Regions from separate parts of the Homo sapiens genome. Here all the other regions are reported to be linked to region 3. Evidence: microRNA targets listed by miRTarBase, many of them from high-throughput screens and not tested one by one. Region 3 holds a microRNA gene; each other region holds the end of a gene's coding sequence.
The links. The annotated mature microRNA hsa-miR-3912-5p reads AUGUCCAUAUUAUGGGUUAGU and lies in region 3 at 3,162-3,182, opposite strand. An mRNA with a match to its seed (bases 2 to 7 or 8) in the 3' UTR can be bound and repressed. Matches are read on the target gene's strand: a 7mer-m8 pairs with bases 2 to 8, a 7mer-A1 pairs with bases 2 to 7 and ends in A, and an 8mer does both.

Region 1 (5,219 bases), not on the chromosome of region 3:
TCGAGCATAGCCGCGAGGGTGGCCTGTGAGGGTGAATGGACCTAGCCAGGTGGCTGCTTTCTGCCCCCATCTCCCACTTATCAAACATGCAACTCCCAGGAGATTGTGTCCAGACCTCCTCGAAAAATTGCTCCTGACAGGCCCCACTCCACCTTTTTCAAGTGTGAGTGATATCTGTGAATGTGCCGGCTCAGAGTGGAGGCGGCTGATGGACCCCAGGGACCACAGTGCAGGCCAGCAAGCAGGGCAGAGTGTTCAACCTCCTCTCCCCTGACATGGCATTAAAAGTTTATGGGCAGGCTGTAGAATTGAAAGCCCAGGAACACGGAGCCTGTACCTCTGACCCAGCCTGGCTCACTCTCCAGTGGGGGACTGCAGGGGCAACAGGAGCTCCTCTGGGGAACTGTGAGGCTTGCCCCTGGTGGGTGCCCAGGATGTCTGGAGAGGAAGGAAGGCTGCCTGGAGGTGCTGGCATTGAGGTAGGGCCAGGCTCAGGTGGAAGACACTAATTCTGGGCCGGGAGATGTCCATGCAAAGGCCTAGAGGTGGGAGGGTCATGGGAGCCTGCAGAGCCCAGTTCAGGGCTATCCTGAGAGGGCCAGGGAGGGAGCAGGAGAGACAGGTGAGGTGACCTTGGTTGGTGAAGGTGGAGGAGGCCATGCCTATAGGACAGTGGGCTGGGACATTCCAGAACTGAGTCCTAGGGGCCTGGGCTTATGGTTACTGAAAGGTCTTCAGGTAGTTTGGAGGTGAGCCCAACCAATGAAATGGATTGGCCATTGCTCTTTGCAGACAGCATCTCTAAAGTGGTGGAAGCCCCTTGTCCCCCCCTCCTTTCCTTCTGGGCCAGTTCAGATGGTCTGGCTGATTCTGAGCAAACCATTTTCTCTTTTTGCTGCCTGTGAGATGTGCTTAACCTTTCCTTTGCTTCATTCATAGATCCGGACAAAGGACAGAGTCTTTGACAGTATCAGCCACCTCATCAACCACCACCTAGAAAGCAGCCTGCCCATTGTCTCTGCAGGGAGTGAGCTGTGTCTCCAGCAGCCAGTGGAGAGGAAGCAGTGACCTGGCCAGCACTGCTCCCAGCACTGCGCACCAGGTCAGGAGGACCTGGAGTGGACTAGAATCGGGGCTGCTGGAACTGGGACAGCTGCCTGTGGCTCAGAGCCTTCTTCAAAAGCTTCAAAAGGAAGGCTTCCTTTAAGGTCAAGTTTCATAAACTTGGTTCTGAATTTCTCATATGCATATTAAAGGTGTACATACCTATACATCCTGTACAAATTATCCCTCTATATTTATATTTTTTAAGACTAAGAAAGATGTAAGACTAATGTTCTGTGCTGTATGTTTTTAATGAAAAAAAAAAATAAGTTTAACTGTAGTTGTCCAGGCAAAAATTTAATTCAACTGACCCATCCCACCGGGAAATGCCACTAGGAAGGTGTAGCCTGCAGTTTTACCTAATAAGCACAACTGGAGGGGAATAGAAACACAGAATTGTGAGGGAATCGCAAGGCATGCTGCTCAGAGCATGCCTAGCCCTGCACTGAAAGCTATGAGATACTGGTTCTGAGGCATGGCTGTGCTTGCTGGTGGGAGCGGGCATCCTCCCTTGGCCTCCCTGGGACACCTCCTGTGCTCCCTGCACTGCACTCCACGTGCCTGGGGTGTCTACACAACTCGCTGCAGCTTCACTAAAGAACAGGTGGCACTCCAGCTTCTCCGGGTCCTGCTGAGCACAGGGCCCCGCCACCCTTGACCCCAGTTGTGCGAGGAGTACTTGGGAATTCATTTCATGCCAAAATGGCACAAAATAAGCTTCACCAACCAAGATTTTGATTGACAAGTGCTTCCCTGTTCTCATGTATCTAATGCTAAAATGGGTATTTGTAGAAGGGTGGTCGGGGCAAATTCCTGGTTTGTGTCTCCCTCTAGTCAGCGGTTGACTACAGGCTGCTTATGGTAATTGCTAGTAAAGTCCCCCGCCCGCCTTATACAATAGGGGAGAAGCCTGTGTGACAGCAAGAGCAGGCACCCATCCCAGAGCTCAGTCCCGAAGACTCAGGTATTGAGGCTTCTGGGGCTGCATGTGCCAGAAACCCAGGAGTCACTGGAATCCATTTGAGGTACTGCCTCTGGCATGAGGGATGGGGGAAAGGCCTGCTGTCCCAACAACAAGGTTTCTCCGTTGCTGCAGGGAAGAGCATGTGCCTGCCCCCACTCTTTGTCTTGACTCCCTTTCTTCCAGGTAAAATACTGTCATTTCCTGAGGAGTCATTTGGTGTTAGAAAGCTGGCAATGTTTATACCTTTCAAATACTATCTGGGCTGAGATTGCCCTGTGATTTTCACAGATGCCCTTTAAAGAATAGATGGATCCATTTGCTTGCTGGCAGCGTGGCTCTTGTTCTGGTGAGACCCCACAGGGTACAGCACCCTGTAGGGTATGGGTCAGCAGAACAGAAAGACACACTAAACACGCTTAGAGTTGGATAGTGATAAATCTGATCCTGTAAGGAGAGTTATGAGGAGACTGAAAAATCTGGCAGATAATAATACTGCTAAGTTCTAATGCCAATGGTATGAGCCCCATTTCTGCCTTGGGGTGTGCGTGTGGCCAGATGGAAGGACAGGTTAGAGCTAACCAGTGAGGATGAGTCAGGGCAGGCCCCAGCCTTCATACATGGCCTTCTAGGGAGTCTTTGCCTTTGAGGGTCCAGTGAATTTGAGATGACAGTGAAGTCAGTGTTCTAGAATGTTCTGCAGTGGATTGAAACTCTGGAGAGTCTGACACTACTGTAGACTGCACTGCTGTTTTCTGAAATGGTTTTGGCTTCAGGCATCATGTGGATACTCTGCTTAGTGATCCAGAAGCAGACGGCTCCACGGGGTTGCTGGCAGCAGCTGCATCAGGCTCCTGCCCCAAGACAGCATAGACTTGGGTGCTCTGAGAGCTGCCCTGCACATCTGTCCTCTGGGAGGCTGGGAGCCCTGGAGAGACACACACAGCTCTGACCCACCTGTGCATGAATGTGCACCACATAGAAAAATGTGCGAAATGACCTTCTTTCTACATTCATGCATTCCCCACTTGTGAAAGGTCAAAATGCTATTATAACATTCAGGGACAATAGCAAAGTAGGAAATGCAAGTTAGGAGCTGTGAATGCTGTAACATTTGATTTACTTTATTTTTCTCTTGGGGGGACTTGAATGGTAACCTGCAGCTTTAGTAGCTCTTGCTGTGAAGTCAGTGTCTAGTTCGATGGTGATAGAAAATATATATATTTTTTGCATGAGAATCAATTTAGAAAATTTAAAGTATTGGAGTCGAATTTTTTCTTTTTAATATTAATTCAAAATATACATTTTTAAGCTCAGATTATATATTGGTTACACTAGAATAGTGCCAGTGAAGTGAGCAGGCTTCAGACATAGCAGATGGCAGCGATTTTCTAATCTTTGTTCCCTCCCATTTGTAAAGTGGGTTAGAGCACACATTAGTTATCCCAACTCTTCCCTCCAGCACTGTGTGGTGGGCCATTCCTGTGAGCCTCACAGACACATGGGGAAAGTGAGGCTGGGGCTGGTGCCACACCTTCCTGGAGGCCATGTTGTCATCTGGCTGCAGAGCTCTTCTGCTCACTCAGCATTTCGTGAGCCCTGCTGTGTGCCAGCCTGTGCTTTGAGCTCAGGATTCCAAGGCAAAAGCAATGGAGGCTCCTCCCTGTCTAGCCTGGGCCCCTCTTCCCCACACTTTCTCAGGCCACATCTCTGCCTGGGCAGGGCAGGGAAGCTGAACAATGAACGCAGCGGGAATGGCATTAGGCCTTGCGTTCCAGGGCCTCAGGCTTCCAGGGCACAGTCGCTGCTGCTGTGCTGGGCCACCCTGGTCCTGCAGAGTGCACCTGGGCCCTGCTGTCCCTCCAATGGGCACCCCCAACACTTAACCCCAAACTCTATGTCTTCTGGGAGTACAAGGTGGGGGCCAGCAGTCCTAAAACGGCCCCTCTGCCCTTACCGAGTGGCCCTAGAGACCCCCACCCACCTCCCCTAACCCCACGAATGAATCAGCTGTGCTTCAAATGACATCTCTGTCCCACGGAGGCCGGCTGGGCCTCTCATGGGGGTGCTCATTGTGGTTTAAGTCAGCTTTGATTCTTGACCTCCAAGGCTGCCTCTGAGTAGCTAACCGGAGAATCGGGTGGGGAGGTGAAAAACACCGCAGTCAAATGACTCAATCTTTAATCCTGTGCTTAAGACACCACTGTTGCTGTTTTTTATATTTGAAGCACCCAAAGACTGGGCGTCCGCTCAGCCTTGATGAGCGAGCAGCTATTTTGTCAGGCCATCTATGATGTTGGGATAATGGACAAAGGCCTGATTGGGCCATATATGGCCTTCTTTAGGGCCTCCTGGAGGTGGAGGAAGTTGTGGGTAATTTCTAATAAAGACGGGAAATGACAAGCCGTGTGTGTAGGTAAAGTCCTAACTTAAAAGGAAGGACAGGCCTAGGGAAGGGTGGACCCTAAAGGGCCCATGTGCCAGGGGAACAGTGGACATGTGTGTCCAGCCCAACCTCCATGTCTGGTGCTGGGATTCTGAAGGTGGCCCCCAGCTCCCAAAATAAAGCTTTCCTTTTCAGTAGCGTCCGACACTTGGGTAGCTTCTTTCTATAAGCAATGCTTGAAGATGGACGTCTGGGTCCTCATTTCCTCCAAACTGGCTGCTACCTGAAGGCAGTCACACATTTCTTTTCTGTTGGGCTGAGCTGGGCAGAAGCCTCGGACTATAGGCCTTTCCAGGGCAGAGGCAATGCGGGCCACGAGTAGATACCTCCATCCAGCCTCCACCCTGGCACACCCAGAACGGCGTGGACTCAGGCGGGTTGCTGGATTTCTCTGAGCCTTGGCGTGCTCTACACTGCAGGGCTATACATGTTCCCAGCTTGAGGGCGTGCTGGGGATTGACAAATATATGAAACATATAAGCGCAATGATTTTCTAAAATTGTGCATTCCCAGCGTGCCCATTGGTTCTCTCTCGCTGGCCCAACTTTGTGTGCTGTCCATAAATCCCTTTCTGTGGACGGTGACAGTAGGATTGGGAGTGAGTGGGAAGATTGTGGAAAGATTGCAAAGAGGTCATTGCAGGACTCAGACAGACCTTGCAGTGGGTTTCAGAGTAATACTCAGGTTCTCCCATGGAACTTTCAAAGC
Region 2 (5,219 bases), not on the chromosome of region 3:
AGCTCCCCCACACTGCATGCCCTCACTAATCCCTGAGAAGGTGCCCCAGGGGCTGTAGACCTCCCCAGCAGAAAACAAGCCTGGGGTTAGAATAAGCCAATGAGGTCACCAGCACAGGGGCTTTAGGGCCCAAGCAGCTTTGGGCAGAGAAGCAGGAAGGCACTGGTGAGCACAGGGTGGGGACCATGGCTTCTTGCTCCCTCCTTCCTTCCCCTTTCCTGCTCTTCTCTGCCTTTTTTTCCCTTTCTTCTTCTTTCCCTTCCTCAACCTCCTTTTTTCTGCCTTCTCCCACCCCTTGTCTTCCTGTTCTTACCTTCTTCTCTTTATTTCCCTAGCCTCCTTCTCACCTTCCCACCTTATAGGGTACCTGTGTTCAGATTCTCTCGTGGGTACTTGCCCTCTTAGACCCTAAAGAGCCAGGCCGTGCATAGCTCATTATGGCGATTTCTTTCCTCCTAGGTGTGAAGGCTGGAGCCAGGCCTGGAGGAACCCCAGGGGCTCCCGCCGGCCAGCCAGGTGCCGATGGGGAGAGCGTGTTCTCCAAGATCCTCCCTGGCGGGGCAGCCGAGCAAGCTGGCAAACTGACGGAAGGTATGCACTGCCTGCAACTGGTCTGTGGTGGGTGGCTACTCTGGTACAGGCTGGGTCTGTGAGATGATTCCAGACTCAGTCACCCAGGCAGAGGCCAGCCAGAGAGCCCACCTGCTGATGCCCAGTTGTTCTCCGGGCAATCTCTGCCCCTTGGGCTGAGCTTGCCTTCACTATGCCAAGTGGCCCTGACTGGGAGGGGTCTGGCCCAATTTCCTGATGGCTCTCTCCTCTTTCTTTGTCACAGCTGTCTCTGCTTTTGGCAAAAAATTTTCCTCATTCTGGTGACCATGCCCAGCATGGTGAGTACAAGCAGCCTGTACCTTGCCTCTTCTGGGAAAGGCCCGAGGCACTGGGGGTGGGGGTGGGGCTCTAAGTCCGAAGGGGTCCTCTGGGAGGAGTCCAGTCTTCGGCTGGTTCAGTACCCAGAGCTGCAATGTTCCCTTCTCTGAATGTGGGAGGAGAAAAAGGAGGGACACTGTGCACAGAGCCCCTACCATGGGGCCAACACAGTAGGGGTCCCCAGCAAAGGAGGGGCCAAAGCCAGGGCCAGTGCCCTGGCTTTCAAACCATCTGCCATCCCCTGCAGGGCTCTCACAGCACTGGGCTGGCACTGGGTTGTAGGTAGGCCTCCAGGGATGCAACTCCTCTCCAGCCCTCCTCTAAATGCTCCACAGGCTCTTGAAGAAATGAAGAGAGGTATCATTGCTGTGGAAAAATCTCTGGAGTCAGAGGCCTGGGCGCAGCTCTGGACTCTGCGTATAACAGTGAGTGTCAGGATCAGGGTGAGATGGGCCGGAGGAGGGGTGAAGGGCCAAGGCCTGGCTGATGACAGCTAGCCAGTTCTGACAAGTGTGAACTGGGAAGGGCCTGTTGGGTTTCCTTCAGCTGCGATGGGCCCAGCAGCCCTCTACCCCGCAGAGGCAGGGGCCACAGAGCTGCCTGAGATGGTGCCAGACAAGTCAGGTGGCACCCTTGGAGAAGAGCCCAGCACGGCTAACTGCACCTCACAACTTGAAGTCTATGTGCTGGGCACTGAGTTCAAAGTCATCCTGAAGGACCTGGTAGTCTGTGGCACCTGTAGGGGAACATGCTTCTTCCCTGATGTCTGCTGCTGGTGCCTTTGCTCCAGCCACTTGGAAGAGATTAGAGTCCCCAAACCCCACAGAGTCACATCTGCAGCTCTGGGAATGAAGTCAAAACACTCCTGGCTTCACAGGCTGAGCTTGTGGCCCACAGGATAGAAGAGTGGAAGGAGTAGAGAGGCAGACAGGAAGGGACATAGAGGAAAGGGAGTCTCAGCCCCAGACTAAGTCAGCTCAGGGAGAGGGCAGAAGGGCCTCAGGATGGGAGCCCTCACCCTGTCTGGGCTGCAGTGGCCAAGGCAGGTTGGGACACCACTTCCTGGAGCCTGTCCTGGCCCTGGCCCTGGCCCTGGCCTTGGCCCTGCCTCTGTGGGAGGAGGAGGAAGTGCATCATCCTGGGTGGGAGGAGAATCACCTGGCTGTTGGTACAGCTCTGTGCACAGCCAGGACCACTGACCATCATCCCATAGCCCTCGGACCCTCCTCTTCTCCCTCCTTGCCCCTTCAGGGTGCTTCTCACGGTGCACAAGCATGTATGTGTTATCCATGGCGGGGCCTGGCGGTCAGTGAGCAGGTCACTTCAAGGGAGCCCTGGGGCTGGCAGATGCTGGGCCCGGGCCAGCACTGGTTGTGGGAGGGAAGGAGCTAGGTGTGATACCTCACAGGCTACCTTTCTCTGGAAAAGCAGTGGGGCCCTGGAAAGGCCCAGGCTTCCGTCCATTTATTCAACAAATGTTTGTCAAGCCCCAGGTATGTGCCAGGCACTCTTCCAGGATCTGGGGATATGGCAGAGAACAAAACCAAGTCCCTGCCCTCTGAAGCTGACAATCCATTAAAGGAGATAGAGAATAAATAAGTTTAAAAATAAAATTCAATTAAAAAGGTACTTTCTGAAAGTGATGAGTGTTATAAAGCCAGAGAAGCAGAGCTATGGAAGCAGTGGGGTCTGCTCTAGACAAAGTGCTCAGAGCAGAAGATATGTGAGGGAAGCTTGAGGGAGGAGGACGACTGCGGTGGGATGAAAAAAGGGGAGGGAACAGCACTGACGGATGATCGGATGCTGGGATGGGACCAGGGACAGGGCAAAGGCCAGTATAGCCAGGGCCACAGTGGAGGGGAGAGGTGGTCAGGGGTAAAGTCCAAGGGGGTGGGAGCCAGCTGGGGTGGGTTGTGCAGGCCAAGTAAGGAGCCTGGAATTTATTCTAATTACAGTAGCCATAGTGCAGCCCTTAGCGTTCTTCCTGCCTTCACCCTCCCACAGCGGGCTTCCTGCGGCTTCCCGCTCAGCTGATGTTTCCTTGGAGTTGCCCTGGAACAGATGTGAAATCACAAGTGGTGCTGAAAGTGGGGGAAGGAGGGACAGCCCATGGCCTGGATTCATGACAGTACCTACCTTGGGTTTGGGGCCAGGGTATGGCTCCTGAGCAGGGAAAGGAAGCACAGACACAGCTTTGTTCTGCGTCCTGCCACATGGTGTGGTTGGGCCACTGAGACCACTGACTTTATAGTTAAAGAAATCTCCCTTGAGTTCTAGCATTCGGCTAATGATTGGGTCAAGTGGACAGTGCTGCCGTGAGTATCCCTCTCCTGAAATTCTTTACGGCAATTTCAGAGATGGGCTTGGAGAGGTTTGCCATTTCAAACCAAATCCCTTCTCCATCACTCTTAAGCCAAAAAAAAAAAAAAAAAAGGAACTTTTGTTACATTAAAAGAAGTGTCCCTTCCTGGCTGACCTGATTCTTCTTTCTTGCTGTCCTCTCTGTGACCTCCAACCTGCCCAAGCACCCATCTCCCCAAGCCTGAGTGGCATGGCACCCCGTGGGTGAGGAGGTGGCCGCTAGCACAGGCAGATGGCTGAGAGGAATGTGAGGGTGAGAAGCAGCTATCTACAATTCTTGACAGAATCCTTTCTTTTCTTCTTTCCTTCCTCCCTCCCTCCTTTTCTCTTTCAAGCATCTACAATCTGGCAAACCCTTGGCCCAAAGACTCACCAGGTGGGACGTGGCAGGCAGGCCTCAGTTGAGGACGTGATGTTTTCTCACAGCAGCTGCCTGGGTGAAGCATCTGCTGGACAAGTCGGACCACTGGCCAGGGGACCTTTGATTGTCTTTCCAGAGATGCTGCTCTCTGCAGGGCACCACCTTCAAGGCACAGCCCTTGTTGGGAGGGAGAACCCTCTCCAGAAACCCTGCCACCATGGTGTCTTGCCGTACTTCCCACAGCCGCCTTTTTGCGGCCTGGCCGGCCAGGCTTCCCGTGCGTTATACACAGAGTTTGGGCACACACTGCCCTCCCTCCGAGATGCCAGAAGTTTTTCCACAGCCTTGGAGAGGGGCTTTGACTGAGGGCTGGGGGCCCTGGGCTCCGTTTCCTTCACATTCCAGCTGGCCCGGATCCCTCTGTGGCACAGGGCCCTGCCCGTCACATGCCCTCTGGGTGACATCGGAGCAGACCTCCATGTGGCCAGGGGTTGGGAGAACTTTACAAACATTAGGACCTAACACTGTCTCATCGCTGAAATAAGAGGCCATAGCACCGAAAAGCAGCGTGGGCGCCGGCTGAGGCTTCTCCCAGCCCGTGGGTGGCAGCGTGCTAGCACACTGCCACCATCTCAAAGCCATCCCCCTAGCCATCGTGAGCATCCCAGCGGCACCGCCATTGTCTCAACCAGCCGGCTCCTCGTCTGTACACCTGGGGATTTCTTTTGATTTCAAGAACAGCCTTAATCATTCCAGTTTGATTTACGTGTATACCTCATAAACATTTTTCTTTTGTTTCTCTCTCCCCCTTTCTCTCTTCTCTTGGCTCACTCCCTTGCCTCTCCCCCTCCACCACCACCTTGTGACTGATGGTTTGGTTTCCTCTCTGCTCTGCCCCTGCTCAGCACAGGGAGAATGTTGACTTAGAAGCAATAGGGGGCAGCAGGCCACCAAGAGCACAACCCCAGGGCGAGGTCTGGGGAGGCCTCCCAGCCCGCCTCTGTTTACTGTGCAATTCCAGTCGTTCTTAAGCCATCACCAGTGGGTGTACTCAGAGCAGAGGGGCCAGGACTTCTGCCAGCCAAGGGAAAGGCCCAGAGCCCTGTGCGGGGGAATGTGGCACTGTCTATCCATCCGGTGGACTGGGCAGCATTCCTCCCCAGGGCTCTTCCCTTGGGGGCCTCCTTTCATCTGGGGCACAGCCACAAGTCTCATCTCTAACGTTCTATGCAATGAAATATAAACCCTCAATGACAACTGTTAATATTTAATAAATTCCATGTTATGTATAAGGAGTTAATTGCAAACATGCAATTGAGAAACTGGATAGATACACTCATAAAACCCCCACCCCTCCCCACCCCACCCCTGCTCCCATTGTGTGTGTGAAATTCTCAGTCTGTGGCATGTTTGACCTGTGGCAGGACTCGCTGCTGCCAGGTGAGTCACCGCCTGTCCTGCAGTGGAGCATGCACAGCTCGCAGCCTCTTTGCACGATTTCATCCATTTTAAATGCTTGACCCTCTTGCTTGGAGTTCTTTTTGCCTCAGAACCTCTCCTTCAGGAG
Region 3 (5,219 bases):
AACAAGGAAATAAAGGGAAAGACTCAATCATTTTCCTGCTTTTCTTATACAAATTATTTCTATTTATTTATTTTTTGAGACAGTGTCTTTCTCTGTTGCCCAAGCTGGAGTGCAGTGGCTTGATCACGGTTTACCACAGCCTCGACCTCCCTGTCTCAAGTGATCCTCCCACCTCAGCTTCCTGAGTAGCAGGGACCATATGTGTGAGCCACCACACTCAACGAATTTTAAAATTTTTTGTAGAGATGGGGTCTCCCTGTTGCCCAGGGTGGTACAAATTATTTTTGGCCAGGCATGGTGGCTCACACCTGTAATCCCAGCACTTGGGGAGGCTGAGGTGGGTGGGTTGCTTGAGCTCAGGAGTTCAAGACCAGCCTGAGCAACATGGTGAAATCGTCTCTACCAAAAATACAAAAAATTAGCTGGGCATAGTGGCCTTTGCCTGCAGTCCCAGCTACTTAGTAGGCTGAGATGGGAGGATCACTTGAACCTGGGAGGCGGAAGTGAGCCGAGATCACCCCACTGCACTCCAGGCTGGGTGACAGAGTGAGACCCCATCTTAGAAAGAAAATTATTATTATTATTTTTTGAGACGGAGTTTTCACTTTTGTTGCCCAGGCTGGAGGGCAATGGTGCAATCTTGGCTCAATGCAACCTCCGCCTCCCAGGTTCAAGCAATTCTCCTGCCTCAGCCTCCCAAGTAGCTGGAATTACAGACATATGCCACCACACTCAGCTATTTTTTTTTTTTAATTTAGTAGAAACAGGGTTTCATCATGTTGGTCAGACTGTTTTCAAACTCCTGACCTCAGGTGATCCACCTGCCTTGGCCTCCCAAAATGCTGGGATTACAGGTGTGATCCACTGCACCTGGCCGAAAACGATTTTTTAGGGTAATCAAATAATTGATCAAGAAACATTCTCCTTTACAGAAGATTACAGACTGAGATTACAGGCATGCCACCACGCCTGGCTAATTTTGTATTTTTAGTAGAGACGGGATTTCTCCATGTTGGTCAGGTTGGTGTTGAACTCCCGACCTCAGGTGATGCGCCCTCCTCGGCTTCCCAAAGTGCTGGGATTACAGGCGTGAGTCACCACACCCGGCCAGGAACATGTTAAATGACAACATGACTCAAGGTAATGTGTAGACCTTGTTTTGATCCTTATTCAAGCAAATCAACTGTAAGAGACAGGGGTATTTGAACTGGGTAATTCATACTATTAGAAATAAATATATCTATTTTGAGATGGAGTCTCACTCTGTCACCCAGGCTGGAGTGCACTGGCTCAATCTCAGCTCACTGCAACCTCCATTTCCTGGGTTCAAGTGATTTTCCTGCCTCAGCTTTCCAAGTAGGGAGAGACAGCTTTAGTAAATATCTTTGTACCTATATAATTATTAATGTCTGAAAGTAGTTTTGTAGAGTATTCTAAGAAATGGATTTGCACAGTAAGTAGAGCAGGCACTTACAAATATATATACAGTACATATAAATGCTTCTTTTCTTTTTTCTTTTTTTTGGTTGGTTGGTTGGTTTTTTTAGAGACAGGCTCTCACTCTGTCACCCAGGCTAGAGAGTAGTGGTGTGAACATGACTCACAGCAGCCTTGACTTTCCAGGCTTAAGATCTTCCCACCTACCTCAGCCTCCTGAGTAGGTGGAACTACAGGCATGTGCTACCACACCCGGCTAATTTTTTCTGTTTGTTTGTAGAAACAGGGTCTCACTATGTTGCCCAGGCTGGTCTTCAACTCCAACCCCTCCTGCTTCAGCCTCCCAAAGTGCTGGGATTACAGGCATGAGCCATTGCACCTGGCATTCACTGTTTACGTAAGCAGGGTCGTATTATATATATATTGTTCTCCAACTTTGCTTTTTTACTTCATGTGGCATAGCTATCTTTCCAGGATATAATATATAGGGGACCACTGTATTCTTTTTAGAAGTTGCACAGTATTCCACAGGATAAACTGATATACCATTTTTTAAATACAAGTTTTATTTTAATCTTCATTTTTTAACACATTTTATCATGGAAATTTTCAAACAAGAACAAAAATAGAAGGAATCCTATGATGAACAACCATATACCCATCACCCAGTTTTAACAATTATCATCATGTAGTCAATCTTATTTCATATATACCTTCCCACTCTCCTTTCTCCTCCCCTTTTGCTGGATTGTTTTTTTTTAAAGTCTCAGATAAGGCCGGGCGCCATGGCTCACGCATGTAAGTCCAGCACTTTGAGAGGCTGAGGCGGGTGGATCACTTCAGGTCAGGAGTTCGAGTCCAGCCTGGCCAACATGGTGAAACCCCATCTCTACTAAAAATACAAAAATTAGCTAGGCGTGGTGGGGGGCGCCTGTAATCCCAGCTACTTGGGAGGCTGAGGCAGGACAATCACTTGAACCCAGGAGGCAAAGGTCACAGTGAGCCAAGATCATAACACTGCACTCCAGCCTGTATGACAGAGCGGGACTTCGGTTTCAAAAAAAAAAAAAATTAAAATAAAAAATAAAACAGTGGCCGGGTGTGGTGACTCACGCCTGTAATCCCAGCACTTTGGGAGGCCAACATGGCGAAACCCTGTTTCTACTAAATATACAACAATTAGCTGGACGCGGTGGCAGGCACCTGTAATCCCAGCTACTTGGGAGGCTGAGGCACGAGAATTGCTGGAACTCAAGAGGCAGAACTCGTGAGTCAGAGATCTTGCCACTGCACTGCAGCCTGGGCAAGAGAGCGAGACCCCGTTTAAAAAAAAAAAAAATGCTGGCTGGGTGCGGTGGCTCACGCCTGAAATCCCAGCACTTTGGAAGGCAGAGACAGGCGGATCACCCGAGGTCAGGAGTTTGAGCCCAGCCTGGAGAACACAGCGAAACCCCATCCCTCCTAAAATACAAAAATTAGTCGGGCGTGGTGGCATGCACCTGTAGTCCTCGCTACTCGGGAGCCCGGGAGGCGGAGGTTGCATCCAGCGGAGATCACGCCACTGCACTCCAGCCTGGACAACACAGCGAGACTCTGTCTCCACACACACACAAAAAAAGGCATAACAAATTTAAGTGACTCAAAGCTTTATGTGACACAGGAGCTCTCAGAAAGGAACAGTTAAATTATAACATGTCCATATTATGCGTTAGTATGTGTCCACAACTAACCCATAATATGGACATGTTATAATTTAACTGTTCATTCCTCTCTTGATAGACACTGAAATCGTCTCTATAATTTTCCTGTAAGAAATAATGCCTTGGGGTGGGGGTGTCTTCCTTTCTGAGGCTATCATTTGTATTCCTCACTTCTTAAATTTGTTTGATATGTTGAGGCTTAAAAAAAAAAGATTACGGGTCTTCAGAACGCCCCAATGCCCGCGGGGTGCTGGGGTGCCTCGGAGTTTGTCAAGGTGTAGCTTAAAACGTTAATTCCCATGCTCGCTCCCAAATATTCGAATTAAGGCTTCTGTAGTTCTTACAAGTCACCCGCTTTCTTTCAGGAGGAATGTTAAAGATTAAGAGCGGCAAGAAGTCAGAGTCGGCCCACCCTCCGAGCTCTCTTAGGGCGATGTCCTTGCTAATTTGGAGACTGATTCAGTCCCCTTTTGGCCCCCAAGTTACGTAAAGATAAGGACTTTGGAGATGTTTTCTCAGGAAGGACAGAGCTGAAAAACAAAGTTCCGTAAGTCTGGCCGGTAACTACATCTTTCCTTCCTAACAAAGAATAAGCCGCAATTCACTCTCTCTGGCACCTGAACTTTGGGGTAACGATTAACTGCGATCCGAAGCCTTCAGGCAAGTAAAAAATTCCTGAAGTGATTACGCCTGTTTGGAGGCTTGCAGGGCACTAGGGGATGGGGAAAGGTGAATCGAGGTGCTCTCTGGCTCATTCGCAGCCGGCTAACCCGCCATATCTTACACAGCTAAGGGCTGCCGACGCCATTTTGCAGGGTGGGCTGCGCAGACTCTTGGCGGGAGGCCGGCGCGCTTGAGCGGGAGAGGACGTGGAAGGGTTGGAGGTGGGGAGTGCGCGTTACGACTGGAAAGCACGCGTGCGCACAGGCGACAGCAGCGGAGGGGTGGGGCCAGTGTACGAGTGCGCGTGCTCGGTGGGAGCCCGCGGAGTACCTGGAAGGAGGTGGGGGCGAGGTAGAAAGGAGTGGGGTTGAAAAGCGCTTGCGCAGGACGGCTACGGTACGGGGGTGGGAGGGCTTCGGAGCACGCGCGCGGAGGCGGGACTTGGGAAGCGCTCGCGAGATCTTCAGGGTCTATATATAAGCGCGGGGAGCCTGCGTCCTTTCCCTGGTGTGATTCCGTCCTGCGCGGTTGTTCTCTGGAGCAGCGTTCTTTTATCTCCGTCCGCCTTCTCTCCTACCTAAGTGCGTGCCGCCACCCGATGGAAGATTCGATGGACATGGACATGAGCCCCCTGAGGCCCCAGAACTATCTTTTCGGTAACTGCTGGGGGGAGCTGGAGCGAGGCCGAGCGGGGCCTGGTGGCGGTGAGGGTGGGGGTGAGGGGCGGGAATCCGGCTGCAACCGGGTCTGGTGGAGACCGCCAGACCGACGGGAGGCCTGAGCGGGTGGGAAGAGCTGCCTGAGCCCTGGACCTGGAGGGATTGGAGCCGCGGGGGGAGCCGGTGGCGTGAAGGGGGAGGAGACGAGCGGCCTGAAGCGTCTGGGGCGTGAGCGGTCCGAGGCCCGGGGCCTGAGGTAAAGTGGAACCGGCCGCCTGGAAGTTCGGCCTTTGCCGGGGATACGTGGCGGAGCTCCAGGCGTGGTTTATTTTCTAACGGCGGTGGTTCATAGGCTTCTGATGCCAGGCCCCGGGTTGGTGGTCCTGGAGGCTGGGTTCACCGGGAAGCATGGGCCTGCTTGTTGGAGCGGGTAGATGCACAGCCTGGCGTTATTCTGGCCTCAGAGCCTGGAGCTGCCGGACGTAGACTTACCTCGCGTGCTTCGGCCAGTTACTGGGGGTGGGGAGGCGCGGCGCGGCGTGAGGAGGCCGCAACCGCTGGGAGCACGTGGTTGCCACGTGGTTGGGGGAGGGAGGGGGGTGTGGGCGCTACATCCGGGACTCACCGGCGTGTTGCCACTCGTGAGCCAGGGATGCTGTGGCTCTGTTGAAGTGGGAAATGTTAAGAGGCTGGTAGCACTAGGGTTCTGGAGGTCTTTGTTCAGTGCTTACAGCATGTACTGTGATGGCAGCTCTCATTT

Region 1: the mRNA of SHC3 is a reported target of hsa-miR-3912-5p. Seed matches in the 3' UTR shown: 8mer at 4,370-4,377.
Region 2: the mRNA of BSN is a reported target of hsa-miR-3912-5p. Seed matches in the 3' UTR shown: 7mer-A1 at 3,742-3,748.

The regions. Positions count from the first base shown.
Region 1 is chr9:89,009,296-89,014,514 of GRCh38, reverse strand. SHC3 (SHC adaptor protein 3) reads left to right here. Exons shown (of 12, transcript NM_016848.6): 12 at 940-5,219. The coding sequence ends at 1,068. Among named protein-coding and RNA genes, the nearest start is that of S1PR3, 20 kb to the right of the region's middle.
Region 2 is chr3:49,663,964-49,669,182 of GRCh38, forward strand. It overlaps BSN (bassoon presynaptic cytomatrix protein), which reads left to right. Exons shown (of 12, transcript NM_003458.4): 9 at 460-591; 10 at 836-890; 11 at 1,266-1,355; 12 at 3,627-5,219. The coding sequence ends at 876. Among named protein-coding and RNA genes, the nearest start is that of APEH, 7.8 kb to the right of the region's middle. RefSeq lists a silencer at 2,633-2,927 and an enhancer at 2,633-2,927.
Region 3 is chr5:171,383,551-171,388,769 of GRCh38, forward strand. MIR3912 (microRNA 3912) reads right to left here and starts at 3,210; the gene lies at 3,106-3,210. It overlaps NPM1 (nucleophosmin 1), which reads left to right and starts at 4,299. Exons shown (of 11, transcript NM_002520.7): 1 at 4,299-4,456. The coding sequence starts at 4,399. RefSeq lists silencers at 4,580-4,639, 4,960-5,019.